Linked DNA regions of Homo sapiens: region 2 is linked to region 1. The links come from fine-mapping of genetic effects on gene expression. Tissue or cell type: whole blood. Region 1 holds a variant in brackets; the other region holds the start of a gene. All regions are shown on one strand. Distances are between the middles of the regions.

What was found. PIP is the estimated chance that this variant, and not a neighbour inherited with it, causes the effect.
Region 2: FAXDC2 starts here. The variant in region 1 is fine-mapped to the expression of FAXDC2 in whole blood (TOPMed, PIP above 0.99).

The regions. Positions count from the first base shown.
Region 1 is chr5:154,817,564-154,825,742 of GRCh38, reverse strand. It overlaps FAXDC2 (fatty acid hydroxylase domain containing 2), which reads left to right. Exons shown (of 9, transcript NM_032385.5): 6 at 2,151-2,356; 7 at 3,166-3,271; 8 at 4,317-4,483; 9 at 5,271-7,251. The coding sequence ends at 5,427. LARP1 (La ribonucleoprotein 1, translational regulator) reads right to left here. Exons shown (of 19, transcript NM_033551.3): 19 at 8,138-8,179. Among named protein-coding and RNA genes, the nearest start is that of MIR378H, 7.8 kb to the left of the region's middle. The variant C/T (reference allele first, on the strand shown) is at 5,040.
Region 2 is chr5:154,847,359-154,855,537 of GRCh38, reverse strand. FAXDC2 (fatty acid hydroxylase domain containing 2) reads left to right here and starts at 4,935. Exons shown (of 9, transcript NM_032385.5): 1 at 4,935-5,055.

The DNA.
Region 1 (8,179 bases):
TCTTACCACTTCTCACCACTTCCATCACTATTACCCTGGTCTAATTCACCATCTTCTCTTGTCTATATTACTGCTTTTTTTTTTTTTTTTTTGAGACGGAGTCTCACTCTGTCACCCAGGCTGGAGTGCAATGGAGCAATCTCGGCTCACTGCAACCTCCCGGGTTCAAGTGATTCTCCTGCCTCAGCCTCCTGAGTAGCTGGGATTACAGGCGCACACTACCATGCCTGGCTAATTTTTGTATTTTTAGTAGAGACAGGGTTTCACCGTATTGGTCAGGCTGGTCTCAAACTCCTGACCTCGTGATCTGCCTGCCTTGGCCTCCCAAAGTGCTGGGATTACAGGCATGAGCCACAGCACCGGCCTGCCTTTTTTTTTGATGGAGTCTTGCTCTGTCACCGAGGCTAGAGTGCAGTGGCATGATCTCGGTGGCTCACTACAACCTCCGCCTCCCGGATTCAAGTGATTCTCCTGCCTCAGCCTCCCGAGTAGCTGGGACTACAAGTGCATGCCACCACGCCTAGCTAAGTTTTTGTATTTTTCGTAGAGACGAGGTTTCACCATGTTAGCCAGGATGGTCTCAATCTCCTGACCTCATAACCTGCCCACCTTGGCTTCCCAAAGTGCTGGGATTACAGGCGTAAGCCACAGCGACTGGCCCTTTTTTTTTTTTTTTTTTTTTTTAACAAGATTGGGTCTCACTCTCTCACGCAGGCTGGTGTGCCTTAAACTCCTGGACTCACATGATCCTTCCACCCCAGGCTTCTGAATAGCTGGGACTACAGGTGCACACCACCACATCCAGCTTTTTAAAAAAAATTAGATGGGGTTTCGTGATGTTGCCAAGGCTGCTCTCAAATTCCTGGCCTCAAGTGATCCTCCCACCTCCACCTCCCAAAGTGCTGGGATTACAGGTGTGAGCCACCGTGCCCAGCCTGATATATATGTTTTTATATTTGTTGTGTCTAGTCTACCTTTCTCACTGGAACATAAATTCCATGGGGGCAGGAATCTTTGTTTTGCTCATGCTTTATTTTCAACACCCAGTACACTGAGTGCTACATAGTGGGTACTCAATAAATATCAGTTAAATAAATAAATGAATAGATAGATGTGATACCCCGCCTCTTGGTCAAGGTTTCCAGAAGGTGTAATGGCCTCACCTAACATGTCCTCTCACAACAGGCTGGCGAGACCTGGCCTCGCAATGGGATGGAAGTAAACAAAGAGTGAATTCTGAAATCAGTTAATGCATGCAGTGCCTGGAAAGGCTGGAGGAAGAGGCAGGCCTCAAGCTGGGGACCATTCTGAACCTGTCGCGCTTTGGGGCAGAAATCCCTCCAGCTCACAGAGGGAACTTGGAGAAATCCCTTCTAACCAAACAAGTTCATCAGGATCCAGGAAGTAATCTATGGTCACAGGACTGTTGCCTGGAGCCCCAGTGCTCTGACAAAGGGAAGGGTCAAAGGGTTGCTGATTCTGGGGGAAATATTGGCTGCAGTATTGAGGCCAAATGGACTTTGGACACTTGGGACCAGCTCTGTACAGTGGACCCTGGTGGAAATGCTTGGGCAGGCCCCCATCTTCACAGCATCACTGTGAAAACCAGCAAGTTGGTCAAGAAGCTGGATAAGCAGTTCCTTGGCTTACCTGCTTCTTTGCTCTGGGCCTACTGCAGGGAGGCTGGACCACTTGAGGAGGCAGATGATCTTGATCTCTGCATCCAATCATGAACAAGGTTCTCTGATGAAGAGGGGCTAAATGGCTGAAATGGGGTATCACTCAGAAAGTCACAGCCTTCTCCAAGCACCATGGAGGCTACCCAAGTTACCTGTAAATACATGGGGCCTGGCCAGAGAAATGGGGAGGGCAGTGGTGATAATGTGCAGAACCAGGAAGAAGGCAGGTTCCGACACAGACTGAAGGCTGCTGAAGTTTCCAAGGACAGGGGTATTACTCACCTGCCTAGCAGCCAGGGCCTTATTCTGCAACGTTTCCAGGCCCAGAGCTGGGTGGCAGTCAGGAGCTACTGGCTGTCCCCCGACATCTCTCCCAGAATCCAACCAGAGTGAGGGCCTCCTGTAAGCAGGTCACGGTGGAGCCTACTTCTCACACTCTTATCCATCTCCCTCCTCCCTTCCCTTGGGCAGGTGGATCCTGTGAAACTGCGCCAGTCTATCCGCACAGTTCTTTTCAACCAGTGCATGATATCTTTCCCCATGGTGGTCTTCCTCTATCCCTTCCTCAAATGGTGGAGAGACCCCTGCCGCCGTGAGCTACCCACCTTCCACTGGTTCCTCCTGGAGCTGGCCATCTTCACGCTGATCGAGGAAGTCTTGTTCTACTATTCACACCGGTGAGCAGGCCCTGCCTGAGGCACAGCTGGCTCCTCATCCTGTCTAGGGCTCACTGATCAACAAGGAAACTGAGGCCAGGTGCAGTGACTCACGCTTGTAATCCTGGCAATTTGGGAGGCTGAGGTGGGCGGATCACTTGAGCCCAGGAGTTTGAGACTAGCCTGGGGAATGTCAGGAGACCCCGTCTCTACAAAAAAATTTAAAAAATTAGCCAGGCATGGTGGTGTGTACTTGTAGTCCCAGCTACTTGGGAGATTGAGGTGGGAGGATCACATGAGCCCGGGAGGTCAAGGCTATAGTGAGCTGTGATCACACCACTGCACTCCAGCCTGGGCGAAAGAGCAAGACCTTGTCTCAAAGAAAAAAAATAAAAGGGAACAGGCTTCTGAATTGAGTGTAGGCCAGTAAAATACTCCCTGGCCTCAAGTGTCCCATTAAATAGTTAACAGGGAGACCACTAGTTGTCTCATAACTGACAACTTGGGACAACTGAGGAATGAATGTCCAAAAGAGAAAAGGCCTCTCTGATTGTGTGGGAGCCAGGGCAGTTTCCCATTCATTTCCTTATTCAGTCCTTTCTGGGCAGCATCCCATTTTACAGCGAATACAACTGGCATAGAGAAGCAAAGCAACCCACTCCCAAACTATGCAGTATAAGGGCTGGGGTTGAAATTTGAAGGCAGGTCTTGGTGTTGTTAACTTTGCTCCATGGATGTAACCCCTAGTTCCTATTTTTGGTTTCTCATGGTCTGGTCGGGGAGGGAGAAAGAGGAATCAGCAGGTTATTAACTATTAACTATTTCCCCAGGCTCCTTCACCACCCAACATTCTACAAGAAAATCCACAAGAAACACCATGAGTGGACAGCTCCCATTGGCGTGATCTCTCTCTATGCCCACCCTATAGAGCATGCAGTGAGTAGAGCTCTATGCTCCCCAGAGCAAAGGGCAGATGGCCCCAACCACCTTCCTGAAGGTCTCCTGCAGAGAACTTAGACCACACCGGCCCTTTTTCTTCCCATTTAAAAATAGCTACCATTTATTGTCAGCCTTCCATATGCCAGGCTATGTTAAGTGCTAACACAGTTGTCTCATTTAATCATCCCAACAACTTTCTTTTTTTCTTTTTGAGACAGGGTCTTGCTCTGTCACCCAGGTTGGAGTGCAGTGGTGTGATCATAGCTCACTGCAGCCTCCAACCCCTGGGCTCATGTGATCCTCTAGCTTCAGTCTTCCAAATAGCTGAGACCACACGTGTGCACTTCCAAATAGCTGAGACCACACGTGTGCACCACCAAATCTGGAGTCTCACTGTGTCATCTTGGCTGGAGTGCAATGGCATGATCTCGGCTCACTGCAATCTCCCGCCTCCCGGGTTCAAGCCATTCTCCTGTCTCAGCCTCCTGAGTAGCTGGGATTACAGGCGTGTGCCACCACGCCTGGCTGATTTTTGTATTTTTAGTAGGACAGGTTTTCACCATGTTGGTCAGGCTGGTCTCAAACTCCTGACCTCGTGATCTACCCGCCTTGGCCTCCCAAAGTGTTGGGATTATAGGAGTGAGCCATCGCACCTGGCCACATCTGGCTAATTTTTAAATTTTTTTGTAGAGTCGGGATCCTGCTATTTTGCCCAGACTGGCTGGAACCCCTGGCCTCAAGCAATCCTCCCACCTCTGTCTCCCAAATTGCTGGGATTACAGGCATGAATCACCACACCTGGCTCCTCCAACAACCTTTTTAATCTTAATTTTGCTAACAAGAAAGTTGAGGCTCAAACTGCGTAATTTGTCCCAAGTTACAAAGGTGAATGCCTTCAACAAATCAAAGTCCCGAAACTCTCACCTTCTCCAGATCTGGGTCAAGGAAGTTTGCCTCTGGTACCACCTTGGGACTAAGTGTATACCCAACTAAGTCCCTTCATCTCCCTGGACCCTGCCTTCAATCATCCCTCCTCTTGCAGGTCTCCAACATGCTACCGGTGATAGTGGGCCCATTAGTAATGGGCTCCCACTTGTCCTCCATCACCATGTGGTTTTCCTTGGCCCTCATCATCACCACCATCTCCCACTGTGGCTACCACCTTCCCTTCCTGCCTTCGCCTGAATTCCACGACTACCACCATCTCAAGTAAGGACCTTCTCCCCACAATGGGTCCCTAGGCAACAACCATCACCCTCCCTCCTTAAGCTTCTGATAGCAGGCACTGGTATCTCAGTTTACATGTGAGTGCTAGTTGGGGAAGAGGTCTGATGGCTGGGAAAATAACCACACTGGGATGACCTTACTCTTTTCCTTCTGAAATTGGGTCCTCCTCCAACTGGGGGTTTTAAACCTTTATTTGGACTCTGGGCCCTTTGAATAAGCTCTGGACATTCTCTTTAGAAAAGTACATATATGCATAAAACTCCTGCAGGCAATCACAAGGAAGTCATGTATCTCTGAAAGCCCCAGACTTTTTCAAGTGTAGTCTACAAACCTCCTATACCAGAATCACCTGAGATGCTTGTTTAAAATATAGGCTCTTGAATTCCACTCCAAATATGCTGAACTAAGGTATCTGGGGGAGCAGGGCCTGGAAACCTGCATTTTAGTTAAGTGTTCCAGGGGATTCTGATGCTGGTGATCTCATACCTGAAGAAGCCTAGTTCTGCTAGAGATTCTCAGACTGTGGGCATCAATCACA[C/T]AGCAAGCTTTTCAAAGGAGGACTCCAGATACGGCAAATTGCAGGTTTGGAGTGGCCCCCGGGAGATGCATTGGTAGCAACTCCCCAGCTTATTCTGATGCAGATGGTCAGGATGGTGGTGACAGGTGTGGGGTAGGAGGGCTGAGAAATGTGTGAGGCTGGCACAAATGAAATGGGATCTGCACGGAAGCCTCCAGCATGGGCACTGCAGTGCCGTCCTCTCTCTTCTAGGTTCAACCAGTGCTATGGGGTGCTGGGTGTGCTGGACCACCTCCATGGGACTGACACCATGTTCAAGCAGACCAAGGCCTACGAGAGACATGTCCTCCTGCTGGGCTTCACCCCGCTCTCTGAGAGCATCCCAGACTCCCCAAAGAGGATGGAGTGAGAGACAGCCTAAGTGTCATCCTGGCTGTCCCTCAGCCATGGGATGCAGACACGGCTTCCTGATTGCACCTAACAATTTGCCTCCTTCGGCCACACGCCCTAATGATGGCACCACCAGGGTAGAGGGAAGGTCGGCTTCCCGGAAAAGCAGGGCCAAGGATGAGGCTTTCTTCAAACTACTGCCCTTGATGTCCCTCAATGGGATCAGGAGTTAGCTTAAGAAAAAGGAAAACACAGCTCCCCAGACTGGAGGCTGGTCAGAGGGAGGAGACCCCTGGTCCTCTGCTGTGGAAGGAGAGGGGTTCAGCCCCAGATAACTCCTTTGTGGCCTGGGCAGGATGCAGAGAATGACAAGGCTGAAAGGAGGGGGACTGGAGGCTGCCTGGCTCCAGCGAGAGCTCCTTCTGGGACCAGAGGGTGGGACGGCCAGGTATCACTTTGCCCCTTCCTGCCCCAAAAGGCTTTCACATACCCGACTCAGGCCAGAGCCAAGACACCCTGGCAAATCATTATAGGTCTCAATTCATGACATACCAGATGCCAGTCGCCACTTCACCCAACACACACACAAACATACACACACCAAACACTCTGAGTGAGTGGTAAAGGCCCCGTTTTAACTCTGGCCCACCGCAAACAAAAGGTTTCCCTCTGTGGGGGAGAAAAAGAAATCCAGGAGCTCCTCCCTGGATTAAAACCAACGAGGTGCAGACCAAACTTTAACACCTTTAGCCTTATGTGGAAACCAAAAACCAACTGCTGGGAAACTGTGAAAAGCCCTTTTACCCACAAGGGGAGGGGTCAAAGTTGCTGCCCTTTGGGGACACCCGAGACCCCTAATTAGCCTATCTGAATGAGGACCAAAGGTTAGAGCCCTCTTTCTCCCCGAAGAAAGAGCCCGGAAAAACATGGCAGAGCAAAGAGCAAAATCCTTTCTCCCCCGAATGCTTTACCAGTTTCTCAGCAACATTTATTCAAGATGATTTTTACCAGGAACCTTATCAAAGGCAAAACCACAGCTGCTTGGGTTGAAGTCCCCATCCTGGCCTCCTCTCAGCCGCCAGACATGGCCAGGAACCCTGTGGTTCCCAAGAACAATTTAAAGATCACTCTTTGATTTGAAAGACCACCATTATCATTTTACTAAATTCTTATATATACTTGTGCCTTTTCCAACTTTCAGTTCTCTTAAGAAAAACATCCACTGTAGCTTTATAAAATACCTTAGTATCAGCTAGGTCCAAGTCTCCAGGCAGGACTATCAAAATGGACTCCTTCTTCCTATCAGCTCTAGAACCCCAGAGGACTTGCCCAGTAGGCCAGCTGAGCACTTACCAGGCAGCATCTCCCTGGCCTTCCACAGTCTCGCCTGTCTGTCTCTGGCCTTGGTGGACCTGGCTCCCTCCCTAGGAGGCTTTTGCCCTCAGCTTGAATACAGTTCCTGGTGCATCAAAGCTGTAAGTTCTCAGCTGCTGGCCTGCACTCATCACCTCTTCCTACAAATAAACATTTGGAAAAAAGTCCATCTTCAATATGCTTAAAGAGAAGGGTAGGAGATAAGGAGAAAGAACAGATACGGTTTTTTTCCCCTTTAAGGCCTTTAGATTTTGAGGTACTGTAAGGGGCCTAGAAGGACAAAAGGCTTTCATTCCCTCTTCCTTTTGGCAGGCAGGTTATCAGTCCTTGGCAGAAGGGCCCAGCCCTATCCTTTTCTGTATCAAACAAAATCCTTGAGGTTGGTATACAAGTTAAGGCTGAAAAAAGGCCTTAAATTCCCAGTAAAGAATGTGAAAGCAAGCATGTAAAATAAACTGGTCTTCATGAATTCCAGTGGATAATTTTTTTTTGAAGGGAGGTGTCTACTACAAGACTTCTAATACTTCAGACATAGCATTTGGAAGCTCAGGCTGTGAAATTAAGCTGCTGTGAGCATTCCTAACGATAATTTGTGAAAGTAAGTTTCAATTAATTCATCTTTCTGTTTTCAAAGTACCAATCCGTCTGCATCAGCCCTGGACACTATCTCCTAAACTTTCCTTTGGCCTGTGGAGGTCACTGGTGGTACTGAAGTACCTGCCAACCTCAAGAACAGTGAAAAAGCACTCTCTGGAAAAACCATTTACCCAAGCCAGGTATGGGAGACAGTTGTCAGATGAACACGTAAATAAGGCCATGCCCCATTTTTAGTTTTGTAATTTATACGGGGAATGGGGGACTCTTTGTTCCATCCCTCCCCAGCATCACATCTCAGGGTTCGGGGCTGACCAGGATTCCGTAAGTCCACATGGTGCTGGATCATTCCTCCTTCACCCCCCTGTGGAAAAGTCTGTTCATAGAGGGGTTGTGGCAACCCTCCATAAGAAGCCTCATCGTTTTTCTTCTTGGCTGTCTCATAACACAATGCAGGCCACAGCCAGGGGATGGAAAACCTGGAAGCTGACAAGTGCGCTGAAATCCTGGCATTATGCTGGACTGCTGTTTTGTGGCACTGGCTATGACTGTCACGTCTCACTTAAGACACAGGGTGGACATGAACTCAAGGCTTGTAGAAGCCCCTGCCTTAGGCAGACTCCTCGAAGCCCAATGGCAGAACCCCTGCCGAGGTTTCATGTGCACATTGAGTGCAGGGTTCCTCCGGATCTGGGGGAACTCTACCAGAAACCCATCCTTCACACCCAATAGCAGTAACCTAGATGGAAGACCAGCCAGTATTTTGCCTTTTCAAGTGTTTATTTTTATACATTTTTTTGTAT
Region 2 (8,179 bases), 30 kb before region 1:
ATATATTCAGTTACATCATTTCATATTTGAGAAGAAAACTCTATTGCTTTTTGAGATGAGGGTCTTGCCACGTTATCCAGGCTGGTCTTGAATCCCTGGGCACCCAGCCTCAAGTAATCCTCCTCACTCAGCCTCCTGAGTGCCTGGGATTACAGGTGCATGCCGCTGCTCCTGGCCCCTATTGTTTTTGAGCTGCAAACTATAGAAAGTCAGGTTCGAACAAATCTCATTTGGGAGGGTATACGTTTTTGTTTTTTGTTGTTGTTGTTGTTGTTATTTTTCATTTTTTTTGAGACGGAGTATCGCTCTTGTTGCCCAGGCTGGAGTGCAATATCGCGATCTCGGCTCACCGCAACCTCTGCCTCCTGGGTTCAAGCGATTCTCCTGCCTCAGCCTCCGAGTAGCTGGGATTACGGGCATGCACCACCACACCCGACTGATTTTGTATTTTTAATAGAGACAGTTTCTCCATGTTGGTCAGGCTGGTCTCGAACTGCTGACCTCAGGTGATCTGCCCGCCTTGGCCTCCCAAAGTGCTGGGATTACAGGCCTGAGCCACCACGCCCAGCAGGAGAGTATAAGTTTAAGAAAATTGAGAAGGCCAGGCGCGGTGGCTCACGCCTGTAATCCCAGCACTTTGGGAGGCCAAGGCGGGCAGATCACGAGGTCAGAAGATCGAGACCATGCTGGCCAACATGGTGAAACCCCTGGATTAGCTGGGTGTGGTGGCACACGCCTGTAATCCCAGCTACTCGGGAGGCCGAGGCAGGAGAATTGCTTGAACCCGGGAGGTAGAGGTTGCAGTAAGCCAAGATCACGCCACCGCACTCCAACCTGGCGACAGAGAGAGACTCCATCTCAAAAAAATTAATAAATAAACAAAATTGAGAAACACTCGTTATAAAATGAATGGGACCCCTTAAGAACCACACAGCTGGCTGGGCGTGGTGGCTCACGCCTGTAATCCCAGCACTTTGGGAGGCCGAGGAAGGTGGATCACCTGAGGTCAGGAGTTCAAAACCACCCTGGCCAACAAGGTGAAACCCCGTCTTTACTAAAAATACAAAAATTAGCCGGGCATGATGGCAGGTGCCTGTAATCCTAGCTACTAAGGAGGCTGAGGCAAGACAGTCGCTTGAACCTGGGAGGTGGAGTTTGCAATGGACCAAGATCATGCCATTGCACTCCAGCCTGGGCAACAGAGCCAGACTCCATTTCAAACAAAAAAAAAGAAAAAAAGATAGGATGGAGAGAAAACCCAGGAAGGCTGGAGAGCTTCTCACTAGACAGATGCTCTTCTCTATAAGGCTTGCTCAGCAATCAACTATTTACTGAAGACCAGTGTTATTAGTGCCAGAGTTATTACTGCCATGGAAATACATAAAGACCCTATATGAAATGATTGTAGGAAAAAAAGTACCTGCTACTCCAGGGAGTGTTGACCACTTAAACTACAAAAGTTCAAGAAGAAAAGAATTAGGCCGGGCACAATGGCTCACACCTGTAATCTTAGCACTTTGGGAGGCTAAAGCACTTTGGGAGGCTGAGGCAGGAGGATCACTTGAGGCCAAGATTTTGGGACAAGGTTGGACAACATAGCAACACCCCATCTCTTAAAAAAAAAGAGAGAGAGAGAGAGAGAAAAGAACTGGAGGCACAATACTTGACAGGAACAGGAAGGAAATTCCAGGTGAGAGGATTAGCGTAAGCAAAGATATGGACATGGAGACAATAGGAAATAGGAAAAAAAGTTTCTGTACATCATAGTAAGTGAACAATAAATGTTTGCACATGACAGTGATGCTTGGCATTAGAAAGTAGGAAGGAGGCCAGGCACAGTGAATCATACCTGTAATCCAACAATTTGGGAGACTGAGGCAGGAGGATTGCTTGAGTCAGGAGTTCAAGACCAGCCTGGGCAACATAGCCAGACTCTGTCTCTCCAAAAATGTTTTTTTTTAATTAGTGGGGCATGGTGGTGTGTGCCTGTAGTCCAACTGCTTGGGAGGCTGAGGTGGGAGGATCACTTGAGGCCAGAAGGTTGAGACTGCAGTGAGCCATAGTTGAGCCACTGCACTCCAGCCTGGGTGACAGAGTGAAACCCTGTGTCTAAAGAAATTTTTTTTTTTTTTTTGAGGTGGAGTCTCGCCCTGTCGGTCGCCCAGGCTGGAGTGCAGTGGCGCAATCTCGGCTCACTGCAACCTCTGCCTCCTGGGTTCAAGCGATTCTCCTGCCTCAGCCTCCTGAGTAGCTGGGACTACAGGCGCCCGCCACCACGCCTGGCTAATTTTTGTACTTTTAGTAGAGACGGGTTTCACCGTGTTAGCCAGGATGGTCTCGATCTCCTGACCTCGTGATCCACCCGCCTCGGCCTCTCAAAGTGCTAGGATTACAGGCGTGAGCCACTGCGCCCGGCCAAGAAATTTTTAAAAATAGGCCAGGTGCAGTGGTTCATGCCTGTAACCTCAGAACTCTCACCTGAGGTCAGAGTTTGAGACCAGCCTGGCCAACATGGTGAAACCCTGAGTCTTCTAAAAATACAAAAAAAAAAAAAAAAAAAAAAAATTAGCCAGGCGTGGTAGCAGGCGCCTGTTGTAGTCCAAGCCACTCTGGAGGCTGAGGCAGGAGAATCGCTTAGAGGCAGGAGAATCGCTTAAACCCAGGAGGCGGAGGTTGCAGTGAGCCGAGATTGTGCTACTACACTCTAGCCTGGGCAACAGAATGAGACTCCATCTCAAAAATAAAAATAAAAAAATTAAAAAATAGAAAGTAGGAGGGAATAGGAAATAATATCATCTGAGAGGAGCCAAACTAAAGTGAGTCTTGGAAGTCTGGTAGCACAGGTTTGTTCAGTGCACAAGATAGACTTGGTCAGCTGGAAAATATAGACATTCTGCAATATCTGGAATATTGAAAAAAATTAGTATCTCTGAAAGGAGAGATGAGGAAAAACATGAACAAGTTGTACAAAATGTAATTAATTTGTGAGCAAGCATTGAATGTTTACTGAGCCCTTGCTTTGTGCAACGAATTAGGCAAGGAAAATGAGGAAGACATGGTCCTTTATTGGCCAAATAAAGTATGACACATCTATACAATGGGACGGGAGGCAGCCATTAAACAGAACATGGCAGCTCTTAAGGGTACTATATGGAGCAGTCTCCATGTTTTGTTGTTGACAGTTTTATTTATTTTAGAGACAGGGCCTCATTATGTTGCCCAGGCTGGTCTCTAACTCCTGGGCTTAAGAAATTCTCCTGCCAGGCCAGGCACGGTGGTGGCTCATGCCTGTAATCCCAGCACTTTGGGAGGCTGAGGTGGGCAGATTATGAGGTCAGGAGTTTAAGACCAGCCTGGCCAATATGGTGAAACCTCATCTCTACTAAAAAAAAAAAATACAAAAATTAGCCGGGCCTGGCAGCGCACACCTGTAGTCCCAGCTACTCGGGAGGCTGAGGCAGAAGAATCGCTTGAACCCAGGAGGCGGAGGTTGCAGTTAGCTGTGATCATGCCATTGCACTCCAGCCTGGGTGACAGAGCAAGACTCCATCTCAAAAAATAAAAAAAAGAAATCCTCCTGCCTCAGCCTTCCAAAGATTGCTGAGATTACAGGCATGAGCCACTGCACCCGGCATTTTTTATTTTGTTTTGTTTTTTAGAGACAGGGTCCCACTCTGTCACTCAGGTTGGAGTGCAGGGCACAATCATAGCTCACTGCAGCCTCCAACTCCTGGGCTCAAGCCATCCTCCCACCTCAGCCTCCCCAGTAGCTGGGATAACAGACATGTGCCAGTAAGCTCTACTAATTTTTTGTATATGTAGTAGAAATGGGGTTTTGCTACATTGCCCAGGCTGGTCTTGAACTCCTGGCCTCAAGTGATCCTCCCGTCTTGGTCTTCCAAAGTGCTGAGATTATACATGTGAGCCGCCGTGCCCAGCCAAGTTTCTGAGTTTTGTTTATTTTAGAAAGGAGTCTTCCTGTGCTGCCCAGGCTGGTCTCAAATACCTGGGCTCAAGTGATCCTCCAACCTCAGCCTCCCAAATAGTTGGGACTACAGGTGAGCACCACCATGCCTAGCCAATCTCCATGTTTGATTGTTAAGTGGAAAAAGCAAGGTGCACAACAAACATACTATGGTGCTGTTGCTAAAGGAGAAGCACAAGGCCTACACATGTTTCTATTTACAGAGGTAAGCTCTGGAAGGATATACAAAAATCTGGTCACAGAGGTTGTCTCTTGGGAGGAAAAAAAGGGGACTGAGGAGAAATTAAAAAAAGACTTTTCATTGTACATTCTTTTGACCCTATTGTATTTTATATCATTTGCACATTTGCTTATTTAAAAAGTTTTCAGAAATTTAAAAGCAGCTCTTTTTCCAAAGTGCTCCTCACTTCATGTCATGGGTCCTGTATCCTAAGTTCCCCTATTTCAATCACAGTGCAAATTTACCCTCCACAGGCATGCCTTTCCTGCATCTAGACTCACTAGAAATAGCTGATGCATCTCTCCTCCCTTGCCTGCCCTCCACAGGAAAAGAAGCAATGAAAAAAAAGAAAATGAGATCCTCTGGTCTCTGTCACCTTTTTATCAACTTGTACTACCTGCCATTATCTGACACCCACATCTTTTCTTGAATCTGCCTCCTCCTATGGGACAGCGACATTTTCTTAAGTTGCAGATGATGGAGAAAATTTTTTAAAAGAAAAAAAGGGGGCAGGGGGAGGGAAGCCCAGAGTTTGGCCAAATGCACGTTTTTCAAGTTCCTGCTTGAGCTTAGATTCCCTTTCCGCTTTAAGGACATGCCCTCTGGAAAGAAGGGTGTTTTGTTTCCAGCCCACACAGACCCAAACTTTTTTCATCACGTGCCTGGTCCGAGCCAGTACGCAGCTCTGTAATGAGATCACCATGGCCAGCCTCCCACCCGAGCAAAAACAAGGTTAGCCTGCAGCAGAGCCGCAGCAGCAACAGCCACCAAAGCGGGGGCTGAAAGGGAAGAGAACTTAGATTTGACCTGTGCAAGGACCTCAGCAGCTTGGACACAGCCCACTGCAGAGGTAAGTGGGAACTACGGGGGAGGGGTGGTGTTTGCAAAGGTCAGGACATGTCCAGGTTCACTTAAAGTAAGGGCAAAACAACACTCTTCCCACCTCTGCCACCACCCTGTCCTCTCTACTTATGGCAGGGTTAGATTTGCCTCTAAACAGGGTTAGATGGCAGGGTTAGAATTTGTCCTAGGACATTGCTGTAGTGCAGTCGCCTCCTTGTCTCTTACTAATGTCTGTATCCTCTGCCTGTGTTTGTACCATCTACCTCCTCAGTAGTCTAATTTTTCTAGCAATTGACAGGTGATTGTAATGGACAAGTAATTGTTTGACTTTAAAACCATTTGTAAAGGAGCAACTCCTAATTCAGAACTCAAATGAGAGGCAGAACAAACTGGAAGAGACTGTTGGGAAGCAACTGCTGCCTAATTGCTTCTCATCTCTACTCTGCCATCACCAGGAAGGTATGGGGCAAAATACAACAGTTTTAAAGTCTCTGGATAGATGTGTGGGCTATGAGCTAGACAAGTAGGTTGAAACTGTTTTGATGCAACATACTTGGATTTACCAACAGTGGCTCCAGTTGTGAAATCGTTAGTGGCTTGATAGTACCTATGGAAACACTCCACGAAGGTTATTGAGTAAAGGGCATACAGTAAAGTGTGTAGGTGGAGATGAACAATAGAACAGTGGCTTTCAGGACCTTCTGGGGCTTAAGGCAAGCAAGACAAGATGCTGATTTGTGGGTTGCTTCAGTTTCATGTGCAATTCCAATTAAATTTCTTTGAGTGGGATATACAGATTCAATTCAATTTGCTAAAACACAGATGCACTGAGCATCAGCTTCTAACTTTAGTTACGAAAGTAATTAGCACAAGGGAATGGTGCTAAAATGTTCCATAGCAAATGTTGAACACTTTTTGAGGGCAAAAAGCAATGCTTTTGATTCGTGTATCTCTTATTTATTCGGCAAATCTTTCTTGAGTATCTTCTACATGCCAGGCTTGGGCTTGATTCTGTGGATCTCGTGGTAAACAAGACAGGCAGATTCTCGGCCTCATGGACATGCAATCAAGCAGAACAGTAAGCTCAAAGGGTGCAAGTACCATGCAGCAAAAGGAGTGAAGAGAGTATTACTAAAACTGGCCCATGGGAATCATTTTTAACCTTTCCTTTCATGCATTTCATCTTCTGTTTTTGTTTTTTTTGTTTTTTGAGATGGAATCTCGTTCTGTCACCCAGGCTGGAGTACAGTGGCGCGATTTCAGCTCACTGCAACCTCCACCTCCTGGGTTCAAGAGATTCTCCTGCCTCAGCCCCCCAAGTAGCTGGGATTACAGGTGCCCGCCACCACACCCAGCTAATTTTCGTATTTTTAGTAGAGATGGGGTTTCACCATGTTGGCCAGGCTGGTCTCCAACTCCTGACCTCAGGTGATCTACCCACCTCGGCCTCCCAAAGTTATGAGATTACAGGCATAAGCCAACGTGCCCAGCCGCATTTCATCTTTGTTTTTTTTTGTTTTTTTGAGACAGACTCTTGCTCTGGCGCCCAGGCTGGAGTGCAGTGGCATGATCTTGGCTCACTGCAACCTCCGCCTCCCAGGTTCAAGCGATTCTCCTGTCTCAGCCTCCAGAGCAGCTGGGATTACAGGCGTGCACCACCACACCCGGCTAATTTTTATATTTTTAGTAGAGACGGAGTTTCGCCATGTTGGCCAGGCTGGTCTCAAACTCCTGACCTCAGGTGATCTGCCCACCTCGGCCTCCCAAAGTGCTGGGATTACAGATGCGAGCCACCGCTCCTGGCCGCATTTCATCTTCTTAAATGAATATCGGCCACTCTATCTTCTATATAAGCCTCAGATTAGTACAGATGTTGAGTCATAGCAGCTCCTCAAAACCCTCTTCACCAGAGGCTTTAAACTGTGTAATTACATTACAGGTCAGTCTCCTCAGCCCTGGAGGTCGACTGCTCAGCTTTTTCCTAGCATACAGTCTGAGAGCAGAGGCTGAAGTAAGGGGAGTTCTAATCTTTGGGTCAGTTGCCCTCTCCCTGTGTCATTTCTTATGAAATAGAAGTTATGCTATTCCCAAAATACATACAGCACTAGGCAAAGTGTTAAGAAGCCTAGATTTTGCCAGAAACCATGTGGAGTTTGGAGCAAGTCATTTCTACTAACTAGGGCTTCCTCCTTAGCTTATAAAATGGAAGGGGTAGACCAGATGAACATGAGGTCTTTTTTCTCCCCCCTCTAAGAGTAAATTGTCTCAACAATTTTACAAGTTGTTTACAAAACAATACACATTCACATAAAGGTGATGTATTTATATCTATAAAATAGGAACATTCAGTAGGCCGGGCATGGTGGCTCACGCCTGTAATCCCAGCACATTGGGAGGCCGAGGCGGGCGGATCACAAGGTCAGAAGATCAAGACCATCCTGGCTAACATGGTGAAACCCTGTCTCTACTAAAAATACAAAAAATTAGCCAGGCGTGGTGGCAGGCACCTGTGGTCCCAGCTACTCGGGAGGCTGAGGCAGGAGAATGGCATGAACCCGGGAGATGGAGCTTGCAGTGAGCCAAGATCGCGCCACTGCACTCCAGCCTGGGTGACAGAGCAAGACTCTGTCTCAAAAAAAAAAGGAACATTCATCAATCATGCAGAATATCCAGGAAACAAGAATATGAAAGAAAATCTGGGCCAGGCGCAGTGGCTCATGCCTGTAATTCCAGCACTTTGGGAGGCCAAGGTGGGTGTATCACCTGAGGTCAGGAGTTCAAGACCAGCCTGGCCAACATGGTGAAACCCCGTCTCTACTAAAAATAAAAAAATTAGCCAGGCATGGTGGGGGTGGGTGCCTGTAATCCCAGCTACTTAGGAGGCTGAGGCAGGAGAATCGCTTGAACCCGGGAGGCAGAGGCTGCAGTGAGCCAAGGTCATGCCATTGCACTCCAGCCTGCGCAACATGAGCGAGACTCCATCTCAAAAAAAAAAAAAAAAAGAAAGAAAGAAAGAAAAAAGAAAATCTGAAAGAGTTGGGCTGTAGACAAATAAAATTCAAGATTAAACCGTCTGTATTCCTTCCAGCCTCACCTTATTCCCATGTCCTTTACTCAGATTCTTGAAGTTG